Linked DNA regions of Homo sapiens: region 2 is linked to region 1. The links come from fine-mapping of genetic effects on gene expression. A gene starts in region 1. The other region holds a variant in brackets. All regions are shown on one strand. Distances are between the middles of the regions. Region 1 holds the start of EME2 (essential meiotic structure-specific endonuclease subunit 2). Region 2 has its middle 5.5 kb from the start of IGFALS.

Evidence for each region. PIP is the estimated chance that this variant, and not a neighbour inherited with it, causes the effect.
Region 2: its variant is the best candidate, but not a certain one, in a credible set for the expression of EME2 in whole blood (INTERVAL, PIP 0.56).

The regions. Positions count from the first base shown.
Region 1 is chr16:1,770,481-1,774,728 of GRCh38, forward strand. It overlaps EME2 (essential meiotic structure-specific endonuclease subunit 2), which reads left to right and starts at 2,330. Exons shown (of 8, transcript NM_001257370.2): 1 at 2,330-2,994; 2 at 3,225-3,361; 3 at 3,780-3,872. The coding sequence starts at 2,748. It overlaps NME3 (NME/NM23 nucleoside diphosphate kinase 3), which reads right to left and starts at 1,063. Exons shown (of 5, transcript NM_002513.3): 1 at 1,009-1,063; 2 at 800-930; 3 at 590-691; 4 at 401-513; 5 at 1-286. The coding sequence starts at 1,054. The coding sequence ends at 169. MRPS34 (mitochondrial ribosomal protein S34) reads right to left here and starts at 2,654. Exons shown (of 3, transcript NM_023936.2): 1 at 2,319-2,654; 2 at 2,124-2,166; 3 at 1,415-2,033. The coding sequence starts at 2,639. The coding sequence ends at 1,741. RefSeq lists silencers at 299-498, 809-1,398, 2,269-2,408, 2,769-2,868, 2,899-3,208 and 2 more and enhancers at 1,699-1,788, 2,579-2,718, 3,576-4,248.
Region 2 is chr16:1,797,037-1,801,284 of GRCh38, forward strand. No RefSeq gene overlaps it. Among named protein-coding and RNA genes, the nearest start is that of IGFALS, 5.5 kb to the left of the region's middle. The variant G/A (reference allele first, on the strand shown) is at 1,747.

The DNA of each region.
Region 1 (4,248 bases):
GGATTGGAGAGGCCTGCGCCACCCTCCATGCAACGTCCAGACAGGTGGATGTTCAGCAGCCCGTCCAAAGGGATGCTCCAAGCGCTGTGGGGTGGGGCCAGAAGCCCGCCCACCTGGGCCCTGGAGGAGGCTGGAGTGTGAGAGCCTCTGTGACGCGCATCTGCCGGGCTACTCATACAGCCAGTGCCCAGCGCTGTCCTCCCAGCAGAGGAGCTCGTCTGCGCGGAACCAGAGAGCGATCTCGCGGCGGGCACTCTCCACCGAGTCGCTGCCGTGAATCAGGTTCCTGCGCGGAAGAGGCGCGTGTGAGCGTGGGAAAGAGACCTCCGGCACGGGTACCACGCAGGCTGAACAGGGGGAGGCCGGACGGGGCTGGGACCGTCCCCGGGGCGGGCCTTACTTGCCAACCTCGATGCAGAAATCCCCGCGGATGGTGCCGGGCGGGGCGTCGGCCGGGTTCGTGGCTCCGATGAGCGCCCGCGAGGTGCGCACCACGTCCAGCCCCTGCCATACCTGTGCGGAGGAACGGGCGCGGTATCACGCGGGGGTGGGGGTCCCGGAGCCGCCCGCCCGCTTCCCGGATACTCACCATGGCCACCACCGGCCCGGAGGCCATATACTTGACAAGGCGGCCGTAGAACGGGCGTTCACGCAGCTCGGCGTAGTGCTCACGCAGCAGCTCCTCGGAGGCCTGCGGAAGGGTCAGGCCGCCTGCGCCCGCACCCGGCACCTAGGCGTCCCCAGGTCCCCGCTCCCCTTCCCCCCACACCGCGCCCCCGCTCGCTCACCGCGCCCCCACCTGCACCAGCTTCAGCGCCACCAACTTGAAGCCCTTCCTCTCGAAGCGCCGCACAATCTCGCCCACCAGCCGCCGCTGCACGCCGTCCGGCTTCACGGCCAGGAAGGTGCGTTCGTGTGCGCCGGTGCAGGCTGCGGGGCAGGCGGGGACGGGCCGTCAGGCCGGCCCAGCACCGGCCACCCGCCCCCGGCCCGCGCCGCGCGGCTCACCCGCGGGGAAGAGGTTAGCGAAGATGGTCAGCACCAGGCAGATCATGATGGCGGTGCGGGAGCGGGATCCGCGGGGCGGGGCGGTGGCGCCCGGGGCGGGGCCTGCGCTTAAAGAGGCCTGGTCGGGGCGCTGCGGCCTCCGCGGGGAGGCTGCTTCACTTGCACCCCGGAACCCGGCAGCCGTGGGGGGCCGGAGGGCAGCTGCGGAGGCCAAGTCTCCTCCAGCAGCTCGGACACTAACTGTATCCCCCACAACCCGCCCAGGTGGTTCCACCCACGCGGCGCCCTGCTCCGCACCGCCCGAACCCCGCCCCCCCCGCGCCCCCCCGGCCAGGGCCACGACCACAGCGTCAGCCCTTCTCTCCCCGGTCCTAAAGACAGAGCGCAAAGACACCACGACCCTGGGTACTTCTTTTCTCTTTATTCCCTTTCATAGCTTCTGCCGGGATCCAGGCAGAGAGAGCACTAATGGGGGAAAGGGAGCGAGCGCTTCCCGCTTTCCCCAGCGTGGGCCCTCGGAGTTGGGTGTGGGGGCAGCAGGGCCAGAGGAAAGGCACAGGTGGCGATTTGCCCCAGCCCTCCCCCCTAAGATGCAGACCCTCAGAACACGTCGCGGAAGGTGAGCTCCCTGCTCCGAGAGGCAGACTCGGGTGTAACGCAAAGACGGTTTCTTTCATCAATAAGGTCCCCACTGCCTCACAGCCCCTAAGGCCACCCGCTGGTTCTGGCATTCTAGACGGGGGTGCCCTTGGCCCTTCCTTTGTCTTCCTGTTTTGCAGGGTAATCCCAGGGTTCCATGCGTATCCTCTGCACATTCAGCATGGGCTCCTCGGTGCTTGTGTCTCCATTTTTCTGTCGTTCTGCGATAATCATGGCCCGGAGGAGAGGCGGGTACGGCACGGAGGCCAGGCTGTCTTCCGGCGCCGGCGTGAACGCGGTGAAGGCCTCCTCCTCGTGCTTGGGCACCAGCCGCCAGTCATGGTACATGACGTGTTCGATCTCCCGCGCCTCGCTCTCAGTCTTCCCTGATGAAGAAAAAGAGGCGTCTGCACACACTTGCTGTGCCGTCGGCGGTCGGCATCGAACTGCCGGGCACCCGCTCTCCCGAGCCTTACCTTTGAAGGTCAGGATGCCCCAGGCCTTCCCGTGGTCCAAGTTCTGCAAAGCCAGAAGGAAGCGGGGTCAGCTCGCAAAGCTCTCGGCCCCCGAGGTCAGGAGGTGGGAGCCTCAGCCACGCAAACCTGCAGGGAGGAGGGGAGGCGGGGAGACCAGGCGGCTGCAGGGGCGGGGTGCGGACGGGGTGCACGCACCTGCGCCGTGTAGTCGGGCCGCACCCGCGTGAGGCGCCAGTAGCACGGCTCGTCGTGCTGCCACAGCCAGGACTTGCGCGTGACCAGGCGGCCCAGGCCGAAGAGCGGGAGGCGGCCGAGCAGCTGCAAGAGGCGGCTCTCGCGGCGCACGTCGGCCCAGGCCCGGACCGGCAGCCGGCGTCCAGAGAACGGCCGCGTCAAGGTCTCGTAGTCCACCGCGTAGAGCTGGGAGTCGCGCGGCCTGTTCAGTTGCTCCCGCAGGGCGCGCACGCGGCGGGCCAGCTCCGCGATCAGCCGCGGACGCACCTTCTTCCGCGCCATGGCGGGTCCGCGTCCTCAGCGGTCCGGCCGGAAGTCACCGGAAGAGGCCGGTGTCCCAGGCTAAAGTGTTCGGTCGCGGCCGGAAGCGAGGAAGAGGTCGGTCCGGCCATGGCGCGGGTTGGACCCGGGAGGGCGGGGGTCTCTTGCCAGGGCCGGGGCCGGGGACGGGGCGGGAGCGGTCAGCGGCGACCTCCAACCTGGGAGATCTCAGACTCCGACGCTGAGGACTCCGCCGGCTCGGAGGCCGCCGCGAGAGCCCGGGACCCAGCGGGTGAGCGCAGGGCGGCTGCCGAGGCGTTGCGGCTGCTGCGGCCGGAGCAGGTCCTGAAGCGCCTCGCGGTGTGCGTGGACACAGGTGCGGCGGAGGGCACGGGCGATACTCGGGGTAGGAAAGGCCTTTCTCCGCCAGGCGGCGCCCTCTGTCCGACTGGGCGGGGCGCGCGTGCCGAGGGGCCTGGGGCCGGGCCCGCCTCCCAGTCGGGGGTTTGTGCCGAATGGAGACTCCCCGGTCCGGCCACCCGCCCAGGTAGGGCGCTCGCGAGGGTGGAAGGAAGCAGTGACCGCGCTCCTCTCCCCCGGTCCCAGCCATCCTGGAAGACGCCGGTGCCGACGTCCTGATGGAGGCCCTGGAGGCCCTGGGCTGCGAGTGCCGCATCGAGCCCCAGCGCCCGGCCCGCAGCCTGCGGTGGACCCGAGCGAGTCCCGACCCCTGCCCCCGCAGCGTGAGTGGTCGCGGGTTCCCGAGGGCCAGCCGCGAGTTGGCTGTTTTGCTTCCATGATTTCAGCCCTGGAGCTGTCCCTGAGGCAGCTGCCCTGGGCCGTGCGCGTCTCGCGGATGGGTAAAGCAAGGATGGAGAACGGGAAGTGGAGGTGCCCAAGCCGTTCTGCTGGTATAGAGCCGAGCTGGCTGGAGAAGGTTCCGTCTCGATTCAGGCTGTGGTCTGGATTCCTGCCAGCCACAGAGACCTGGCCTGAGCTTGGCCTTGGCAGGAAAGGGAACACTGGGCTTCTGTAGAGCAGGCCTGTCAGGGCCTGGGCTTGGCTGGGGCCACGAACCGCTTTGCTGCTGGACTGCCCAGGCAGGGCCCCTGGGGCACCCGGGGTTGAGACAGGCAGCAGCGCGTCCCCATGTCCCCACAGCTGCCTCCTGAAGTGTGGGCTGCAGGTGAACAGGAATTGCTGCTGCTGCTGGAGCCCGAGGAGTTTCTGCAGGGCGTCGCCACACTGACCCAGGTGCTCGGGTGGTGGCAGTAGTCCCTCTCTAATCAGGAGGGGTGGGTTCCCAGCCGGGAGGCGCCTGCTCCGCCGGTCCCTGCCCCTGTAGACGGGGCTGGAGGGGGCATGGGGCAGGCCAGGACTCCTCTCTGATCCAAAGCCGTAGAGGTTTCTAGGGTGAGATGGAGAAAGCTCCTGGGCACCTGCGGAGGCTACAGCTGCTCCTAGAGGATCCTGAGAAGTGTCAGGAGGCCGGGGTCCGGGCAGTAGGCTGCAGGCTTCGTCCTCTGACAGCAGACAGCCTGGCCCCTGCCTGCGGGGAGCAGTGCTCAGGTGCTGTGGTGCCAGGTAGCGTGGGGTTAGGCTAGACCCCCTGCCAGGTCCCTGTGTCCCA
Region 2 (4,248 bases), 27 kb after region 1:
TTCCGCCATGATTGTGAGGCCTCCCCAGCCATGTGGAACTGTGAGTCCATTAAACCTCTTTCCTTTATAAATTACCCAGTCTCAGGTATGTCTTTATCAGCAGCATGAGAAAAGACTAATACAGTAAATTATTACTGTAATAATTATTATTACAGTGGGACACTGCTGTAAAGATACCCAAAAATGTGGAAGTGACTTTGGAACTGGGTAGCAGGCAGAGGTTGGAACCGTTTGGAGGGCTCAGAAAAGGACAGGAAGATGTGGGAAAGTCTGGCGCTTCCTAGACTTGCTGAATGCCTTTGACCAAAATCCTGATAGTGATATGGCCAACAAAGTCCAGGCTGAGGTGGTCTCGGAGAAGAGGAACTTGTAGGAAACTGGAATAAAGGTGACTCTTGCTATGTTTTAGCAGAGACTGGTGGCATGTTGCCCCTGCTCTAGAGATTTGTGGAACTTTGAACTTGTGAGAGATGATTTAGGGCATCTAGTGAAATAAATTTTTTTTTTTTTTTCTGAGATGGAGTCTCACTTTGTCACCCAGGCTGGAGTGCAGTGGCGCAATCTCGGCTCACTGCAACCACTGCCTCCCATGTTCAAGCGATTCTCCTGTCTCAGCTTCCTGAGTAGCTGGAACTACAGAAGCACGCTGTCACACCCAGCTAATTTTTGTATTTTTAGTAGAGACAGGGTCTCACCATGTTGGCCAGGAGCGTCTTGATCTCCTGACCTTGTGATCTGCCCGCCTTGGCCTCCCAAAGTGCTGGGATTACAGGCATGAGCCACTGCGCCCAGCCAGTGAAAGAAATTTCTAAGCAGCAAACTGTTCAAAATGTGACCTGGATGCTGTTAAAAGCATTCAGTTTTATGTATTCACAAAGATATGGTTTGGAATTGGAACTTATGTTTAAAAGGGAAGCCAACCATAAAAGACTGAAAAATTTGCAGCGTGATGATGCCATAAAACAGAAAAGCCCATTTTCTGAGGAGAAATTTAAGCTGGCTGCAGAAATTTGCATAACAAGGAGCCAAATGTTAATCACCAAGACAGTGGGGAAAATGTCTCCAGGGCATGTCAGACGTCTTCAGGGCAGCCCCTCCCATCACAGGCCCCGAGGCCTAGGAGGAAAAAATGGTTTAGTGGACCAGACCCAGGGCCTTGCTGCTTTGTGTAGTCTCGGGTGCCCTGCCTCCCAGCCATGGCTAAAGGAGCCAAGGTACAGCTCAGACTGTTGCTTCAGAGGGTGCAAGCCCCAAGCCTTGGCAGTTTCCATGTGGTATTGGGCCTGCAGATGCCCAGAAGTCAAGAATTGAGGTTTGGGAGCTAGGTGCAATGGCTCACGCCTGTAATCCCAACACTTTGGGAGGCCGAGGCAAGTGGATCACCTGAGGTCAGGAGTTTGAGACCAGCCTGGCCAACATGGTGAAACCGTGTCCCTACTAAAAATACAAAAATTAGCCAAGCATGGTGGTGCACGCCTCTAGTCCCAGCTACCTGGGAGGCTGAGGTGGGAGAATCACTTGAACCTGGGAGGCAGAAGTTGCAGTGAGCCAAGATCATGCCACTGCACTCCAGCCTGGGTGACAGAGCAAGACGCCATCTCAAACATAAATAAATTAATAAATTAAAAATTCAGGTTTAGGAACCTCTGCCTGGATTTCAGAGGATGTATAGGAACTACTGGATGTCCAGGCAGAAGTGTGCTGCAGGGGTAGAGTCTTCACAGAGAACCTCTGCTAGGGCAATAC[G/A]GAAGGGAAATGTGGGGTTGGATCCCTCCACAGGGTCCCTACTAGGGCACTGCCTAGTGGAGCTGTGAGAAAAGGGCCACCATCCTCCAGACCCCAGAATGGTAGATCCACCGACAACAGCTTGCACCATGGACCTGGAAAAGCCACAGACACTTGTCACAAGCCTGTGAAAGCAGCTGGGAGGGGGGCTGTACCCTGCATAGCCACAGGGGTGGAGCTGCCCAAGGCCTTGGGAACCCAGCTCTTGCATCAGTGTGATCTGGATGTGAGACATGGAGTCAAAGGAGATCATTTTGGAGCTTTAAGATTTGACTGCCCTGTTGGATTTCAGATTTGCCTGGGGCCTGTAGCCCCTTTGTTTTGGCCAATTTCTCCCATTTGGAATAGGTGTATTTACCCAATGCCTGTACCCCCACTGTATCTAGGAAGTAACTCACTTGGCTTTTGATTTTACAGGCTTATAGGCAGAAGGGACTTGCTTTGTCTCAGATGAGACTCTGGACTTGGACTTTTGGGTTAATGCTGGAATGAGTTAAGACTTTGGGGGATGGCTGGAAGGGCATGATTGTGTTTTGAATTGTGAGGACATGCGGTTTAGGAGGGGCCAGAGGTGGAATGATATGGTTGGGCTGTGTCCCCACCCAAATCTTATCTTGAATTGTAGTTCCCATAATCCCCACATGTTGTGCACGGGACCCAGTGGAATGGCCGAATCATGGGCGTGGTTCCTGCCATCCTGTTCTCTTGAAAGTGAGTTCTCATGAGATCTGATGGTTTTATAAGGGGCTTCCCCCTTCACTGGGCACTAATTTCTCTCTCCTGCTGCCATGTGAAGAAGCACATGTTTGCGTCCTTACCCACCATGATTGTAAGTTTCCTGAGGCCTCGCCAGCCTTGTGGAACTGCAAGTCAATTAAACCTCTTTTCTTTATAAATTACCCACTCTCAGGCAGTCCTTTATAGCAATGTGAGAATGGACTAATGCAGATGGGAAAACGGCAAAATTCTTAATGTCCTCTATTTTATTTTTACGGTTTCAAGTACTATTTTGTGCCAACACTGTCCTGTTTTCCCTTCTAATCGGCCTCTTAAGAGGGAGAGGCCAGGCTCAGGGTTAACTGTTCCCGTGTGGTGGTTACCATCAGCCTCTGTGCCGTTTGGTGGAAGGGGTGTCACTGCCCATCATAAACCAAGCCCATCTAAGCCTGGGCCCCTTTCTGGATTCTTGGCCCCCTTTGTCTGTCCACTGCCATGCTCTCTGCACAGTGGTGGCTTTTTGGTAAGCTGGAGTTTTTTTTCTTTCTTTCTTTCTTTTTGGAGACACTGTCTTGCTCTGTTTCCCAGGCTGGAGTGCAGTGGCGCCATCTTGGCTCACTGCAGCCTCAACCTCCCAGGCTCAGGTGATCCTCCCGCCTCAGCCTCCCAAGTAGCTGGGACTCACAGGTGTGCTGTGTGCCACCATGCTCAGCTAATTTTTATTTTTTTGTAGAGATGGGGTCTCCCTGTTATTTTCAGGAAATTCTCACATCTGGTAGAGTAGGGCCTCATTGTTTAAGAGCATCTTGGCTCTTCCCAGTCCTTTGCGTTTCCATATAAACCTTGGAAGCAGCTGTTGAGTCTCTAAAACAAAACCAAATTCTGAGTAGCCCTGCAGTCTGTGACGTCTTCCTGTACTGAGCCTTCCCACCTGGGGACATGCAGTATTTCCTCCTTTACCTAGGACTTGCGTCTCTTGTGTTTTTGTAGATTTTCTATGTTGTGCTCTTGCATGTATTTTTTTCGGTTCTTTTTATATATGATTGTTGCTTTTATACTATTATGCATTATCATTTTCTCTCCTCAATTTCATTTGCTGTCTGTCAGGGTTGGAATTGTTTTCTAGACAGGCTGAGATAACTAAGTATGAAGTAATGTGTTCCCTTTACTCTATGATTCTGTTTCTAAAACAGTTTTATTGATTTATAATTTATAGAGCATAAAATTCTCTCACTGTTAAGTGTGCAAGTCGGTGACAGGAAATGCGTGTTGTGCAGCCAGCACTGCCCTCCGCCTTTCCCACATGAGCTGTACACTCTGCATCTGGTTTCTTCCCTGGATGCGGTGTTTTGGAGGCTCATCCATGCCGTGACACGGAGTAATGCTTCGTGCTTTGCAGCTGAACGATGCTCCGCTCTGTGGCCACATTTGTTCATGGCGCCTCCTTAGTTGCTGGAGGCTTGGACTGTTTCCATTTGGGGTTACTGTGAAAAATGCTACTCTATTTGTGTGCAAGTCTTTGGACACAGGTTTCATTTTTCTTGGGTACAGTCTTAGGAGTGGAGTTGCTGGTTCATAGTGTTGTATCTCCTTTAAAAAACTGTTTTCTAGTGTGGGCATAATTTTTTTTTTTTTTGAGACAGAGTCTTGCTCTGTCCCCCAGGCTGAAGTGCAGTGGCGTGATCTTGGCTCACTGCAAGCTCTGCCTCCTGGGTTCATGCCATTCTCCACCCTCAGCCTCCTGAG